Regions from separate parts of the Homo sapiens genome. Here region 2 is linked to region 1. Evidence: fine-mapped expression QTL. A gene starts in region 1. The other region holds a variant in brackets. All regions are shown on one strand. Distances are from middle to middle. Region 1 holds the start of MAPK3 (mitogen-activated protein kinase 3). Region 2 has its middle 20 kb from the start of MAPK3.

Region 1 (2,906 bases):
TAACATCCAAACTCCTTGCCAGAATCCAGAGCCTTCCTAATCTGGCCCCAACCTACCTCTCCAGGCTGAAACCTCATCATTTTTTTACTGCAGCCATGCTGGACAAGTTATGCTTCTGCCTTTATGCCTCAGCTCACCCCGATCCTTCTCCTTCATGCCTTTCTTCAGTCCCTACCTTCTGCAACCCTACTTTTTCTCTTCTTCTTTTTGTTTTTTGTTTTTGAGACGGAGTGTTGCTCTGTCGCCCAGGCTGGAGTGAAGTGGTGCAATCTCAGCTCACTGCAACCTCCTCCTCTCGGGTTCAAGCGATTCTCCTGCCTCAGTCTCCCAAGTAGCTTGGATTACAGGCACGTGCCACCATGCCCAGCTAATTTTTGTATTTTTAGTAGAGACGGGGTTTCACCATGTTGGTCAGGCTGGTCTCAAACTCAGGTGATCTGCCCACCTCGGCCTCCCAAAGTGCTGGGATTACAGGCGTGAGCCACCGTGCCCAGCCCCCCAATTTTTTTTTTTAATTAGCAGGGCGTGGTGGCGCGCACTCGTAGTCCCAGCTCTTTGGGAGGCTGAGGTGGGAGGATCACTTGACCCCAGGGAGGTTGAGGCTGCAGTGAGCAATTATTGCACCACTACACTCCAGCCTGGACGACAGAGAGAGACCCTGTCTCTATAATAAAATAAAAACAGTCTAGGACTCTGAGAGGCATGGAATTAGAAAGAGTCTCTGTGTCAGAAGACACCATTTTGAGTCTCAGCTGTCACTACTAGTGACCTTACCCAAGTTAGTAAACCTAACTCTCAGATTCTCCATCTGTAAAATTTGATCCATTTATTAGAACATTATTTTTAACCTAGGGTGATCCCGGGCCCAGGTTCTGGTGGGCTGCCGCATACATTGGCTGGGTGGCTCTGGTAGGTCACGCCCTGGCCGCTTCGCCATCGAGGGGAGGGTGAGGACAGTCTCCGAGGCGGCGCTGCCGAACCTCCCGGTGACCTGGAGGCCGCGGAGCCCGCAGGGACCCATGGCCCCCGAACCTGGGGCAAGAAGGGCGGGCGCGCGCGGGGCGGGTCACGTGACAGCTCCAGGCCCACGCGGGGCCGGGGCAAGGGCGGGGCCTGGCGCGCGCGGCCCTGCGGGTGACAGGCAGGCGGGAAGGGGCGGGGCCTCGGGCGGGGCCGCCGTGGGGAGGAGGGCGGTGGGAGGGGAGGAGTGGAGATGGCGGCGGCGGCGGCTCAGGGGGGCGGGGGCGGGGAGCCCCGTAGAACCGAGGGGGTCGGCCCGGGGGTCCCGGGGGAGGTGGAGATGGTGAAGGGGCAGCCGTTCGACGTGGGCCCGCGCTACACGCAGTTGCAGTACATCGGCGAGGGCGCGTACGGCATGGTCAGGTGAGGGGGCGTTCCGGGGGAGGGGGTGCCCTCAGGGGAGGGGGCTTCGCGGGAGAGGAGGAGGAGGCGCCGAGCGCTTTCCGGGACGTGGAGACGCGGAGCGTCCCGAGGAGGCAGGAGACTCGGGATGATCGGGAGCGTCCCAGGGAGGGGGCCCCTGAGTGCTTTCTGGGGGAGGGGGCGCTGCCTACGTCCTCAGGGGAGCAGGCTTGGAGGCTTTGAGTCCACCCTTCTGTAATGATGGGAGGGGCATCCGAGTGCATGTGGGGGCCCGCGGGGACCCTAGTGACACGGGGCGAGGCCCAGAGGATGAGTACTCTCGGGGAGGCGACATCCTTAGTGAAGAGGCAGTGGAGGGCCCGTTTTGGGGGAAAGGGTGTCTTGGATTCCCCCTGTGAGGCAGTGCCAGGGAGCCTGGGGGAGAAGAGCCGAGATCAGGGTGGGGCAGGGCTTTGGCCCCACCACCCCAGGGGCCCAGAGAGAGATGAGGCGGCCAGGAGTGCCACCTGCATGTTTTGGGAGGGGTCTGTGAGTGCCCCCGGCCCCACCGTGTGCTCTGGGCCTCTATCCCTCTGGGACAGCCCCGCTGCCCGGATCCCTCACCCTGGGACCCTCCCCTGCCCTGTCCATTCTCTCCTGCCCCTCCCCTGGCTGCCACCTTCCCAGTATTTGCCCCATGGTGTGTCCCCAGCATCTGCACCCCCGGACCTGTCTTGGGTTAAGGAGCCTTTCCTGGGAATGGGGGCGAAGGGTTCAGGGCCAGTAGAATGGAAGGGGATTGAGGAGAGGGGAAGTCAGTGAGCGGTCAGTCTCTTCCTCTGTTTGTAAAGTCACCGAAGGGCCGCCTGGCTGGTCCCCAGCTTTCTCTCTGGAGATCCCAGGCCTCCACAGCAGGAAGGAACCAGCATTGTTTATGATTTGACCAGAGCCAGCTCCTGCTCTCTCCCCTCCCTGCCAAGGCCTGGGTGGGGCCACCAGGCCCGGACTCCCCCTTTGTAAGGCCACAGCAGCAGCCTCTCTCCGGTCCCCTCAGCTCGGCCTATGACCACGTGCGCAAGACTCGCGTGGCCATCAAGAAGATCAGCCCCTTCGAACATCAGACCTACTGCCAGCGCACGCTCCGGGAGATCCAGATCCTGCTGCGCTTCCGCCATGAGAATGTCATCGGCATCCGAGACATTCTGCGGGCGTCCACCCTGGAAGCCATGAGAGATGTGTATCCTTCACCTTGGCCAGTCGGCTGGTCAGGCACGGCCTCGCAGCTGGGCTGGGGACCCGTTGCTTGGTTTCTGTTTCCATCTTACCCACCACCCTCCAAAACAAACCCAGTAAAATAAACTTTCCTGCAGAGGGGAAGCCACAGTGTAACAGGACTTGGAGACCTCTGATGAACCCAGGCCTGCAGCGGCCCAGGCAGTATGGCCTCGAGCAAGTGGGTTCTCTGCTCTGTGCCCCAGGGGGAAGGGCTAGGCAGGATGGTCTCTATGGGAGTGGTGTCTTCTGACGTCGGCAGTTCTGAGACA
Region 2 (2,906 bases), 21 kb before region 1:
TATATATACACCATGCTTATGGGGTCCATGAGAGTATTTGTTACATGCATAGAATGTGTAATGATCAAGCCAGGGTATCTGGGGTACTCATCACCTTGAGTATTTCTCATTCCTATGGGTTGGGAGTAATTCAAGTTCTCTTCTAGTTACTTTGAAATATACAATTCATTGCAGCCAACTATAATCACCCTACTCTGCTATCAGATATTAAAACTTTTTTTTTTTTTTTTGAGACTGAGTGTTGCTCTGTGGCCCAGGCTGGAGTGCAGTGATCTTGGCTCAGTGCAACCTCTGCTTCCCAGGTTCAAGCAATTCTCTTGCCTCAGTCTCTGAAGTAGCAGGGATTATAGGCACCTGCCACCACGCCTGGCTAATTTTTTTTTTTTTCCAGTAGAGGTGGGGTTTCTCCATGTTGGCCATGCTGGTCTCGAACTCCTGGGCTGAAGCAATCCACCTGTGTTCGCCTCCCAATGTGCTAGGATTACAGGTGTGGGCCATCATGCCCAGCCTAATTCTGTTTTATAGTCAAATAGTATTCCATTCTGTATACATACCATAGTTGATTTATCCACTCCTCCATTGATAGATACTTAGGTTGATTCCATATCTTTGCTTTGTGGATAATGTGGATAATGATGTGGTAAGAATATGACAACTCTTTTTTTTTCCTTCAAGACAGGGTCTTGCTCTGTTACCCAGGCTGGAATGCAGTGGTGCAATCACAGCTCACTGTGGCCTTGAATTCCTAGGTTCAAGTGATCCTCCTGCCTTGGCCTCCCAAAGCACTGGGACTATAGGCATGTACCACCACACCTGGCTATTTTTTTAAATTTTATGTAGAGACAGTCTCACTCTGTTGCCCAGGCTGGTCTCTAACTCCTGGCCTCAAGCAATCCTCCTGCCTTAGCCTCCCAAAATTTTGTGATTACAGACATGAGCCACCATGCCTAACCAAGACAAGGTTTACTTTTAAAAAGTTAGAAGGGGCCAGGCACAGTGGCTCACGCTTATAATCCCAGCACCTTGGGAGGCCGAGGCGGGCAAATCACCTGAGGCCAGGAGTTCAAGACCAGCCTGGCCAACATGGTGAAACCCTGTCTCTACTAAAAAAAAAAAAAAAATTAGCCAGGCATGGTGGCAGGCGCCTGTAACCCCAGCTACTCGGGAGGCTGAGGCAGGAGAATCGCTTGAACCCAGGAGGCAGAGGTTGCAGTGAGCCAAGATCACACCATTGCACTCCAGCCTAGGTGACAAGAGTAAAACTCCACCTCAAAAAAAAAAAAAAGTTAAAAGGCATCAGGTTAAAGATAGTAGACTAAACACATGTATTTACTTCTGTTCTTGCCCCAAACATAATAAAATGGCAGTAAGAGAATCTTTCTAATGCCACACACCCACAGGAAGAGTAAGAATAGGAAAGAAGACAATACGAACAAAAATGTTTAAGCCAGGTACTAATAGAGGGACTCATGGTAACCAATTTACTAGAACCAAGGAAGTGGAATCGAGCTGGCATTGGAAAAAATGAGAAATTGCTAGGTTTTCTTTGCAGAAGCCACAAAAGACATAGAAATTGGCACCTTCAGGCAGGAATTGGAAGAATCTTCTGAAGGGACTGTGATCAAGCCAAGAGGAAAGTCCTGAAGACACTGACATCAGGAGCTCCCTGGGAAGCCACCAGCAAGGTCACCCCCTAGCACACAGTGCCACACAGTGGAGAGAGGTTTTTT[T/G]TTTGTTTGTTTGTTTGTTTTTGAGATTGGGTCTCACTCTGTCACCCAGGCTGCAGTGCAGTAGCACAATTACAGCTCACTGCAACCTCAAACTCGTGGGCTCGATCGTCCTCCCACCTCAGCCTTCCTGGTATCTGGGACTACAAGTGTGCACCACCGTGCCTGATTTATTTTTTTTCTTATTTTTTTTTGAGATGGAGACTTACTCTGTCGCCCCGGCTGAAGTGCAGAGGCACGATCTCAGCTCACTGCAACCTCTGCCTCCCTGTTCAAGTGATTCTCTTGCCTCAGCCTCCTGAGTAGTTGGGATTACAGGCATCCACCACCACGCCTGGCTAATTTTTGTATTTTTAATGGAGATGGGGTTTCACCATGTTGACCAGACAGATCTCGAACTCCTGACCTCATGACCCGCCCGCCTTGGCCTCCCAAAGTGCTGAGATTACAGGCGTGAGCCACCATGGTCAGCTTTATTTTTTTATTTTTTGTAGCGATGAGGTCTTGTTATGTTACCCAGGCTGGTCTTGAACTCCTGGACTCAAGAGATCCACCTGTCTTGGCCTCCCAAAGTGCTGGGATTGCAGGCATGAGCCACTGTGCCCTCAGCCTGGGGAACTTTTAAAAGGCTTTTAATAGCTCCAGCTTTAGTATGCACAGACCCCCAAGATTCACCACGTTTGAGGAAGGCATCCAATATAGAAGACAGGTTCGGGAGCGGTGGCTCACACCTGTAATCCCAGCACTTTGGGAGGCCGAGGCGGGCGGGTCATGAGGTCAGGAGTTCGAGACCAGCCTGGTCAACATGGTGAAACCCCGTCTCTACTAAATATACAAAAATTAGCCAGGCATATGGTGGCGGGCACCTGTAATCCCAGCTACTCAGGAGGCAAAGGCAGGAGAATCACTGGAACCCGGGAGGCGGAGGTTGCAGTGAGCTGAGATCTCGCCATTGCATTCCAGTCTGGGCAACAGAGCAAGACTGTCTCAAAATAATAATAATAATAATAAAGACAGAGGCTGAAAGGGTGAATGGATAAACAAACTGTGCTACCTACATACAGTGGAATATTATTCAGAATTTTTTTTAAAATAGGAAATTTTGATACATGCTACAACATGGCTGAACTTTGAGGACATTATACTATGTGAAATAACCCTGTCCCCAAAAGACATATA

Evidence for each region. PIP is the estimated chance that this variant, and not a neighbour inherited with it, causes the effect.
Region 2: its variant is fine-mapped to the expression of MAPK3 in whole blood (TOPMed, PIP above 0.99).

Annotation. Positions count from the first base shown.
Region 1 is chr16:30,121,517-30,124,422 of GRCh38, reverse strand. MAPK3 (mitogen-activated protein kinase 3) reads left to right here and starts at 1,203. Exons shown (of 9, transcript NM_002746.3): 1 at 1,203-1,383; 2 at 2,417-2,599. The coding sequence starts at 1,214. RefSeq lists a silencer at 842-1,211.
Region 2 is chr16:30,142,050-30,144,955 of GRCh38, reverse strand. No RefSeq gene overlaps it. Among named protein-coding and RNA genes, the nearest start is that of MAPK3, 20 kb to the right of the region's middle. The variant T/G (reference allele first, on the strand shown) is at 1,731.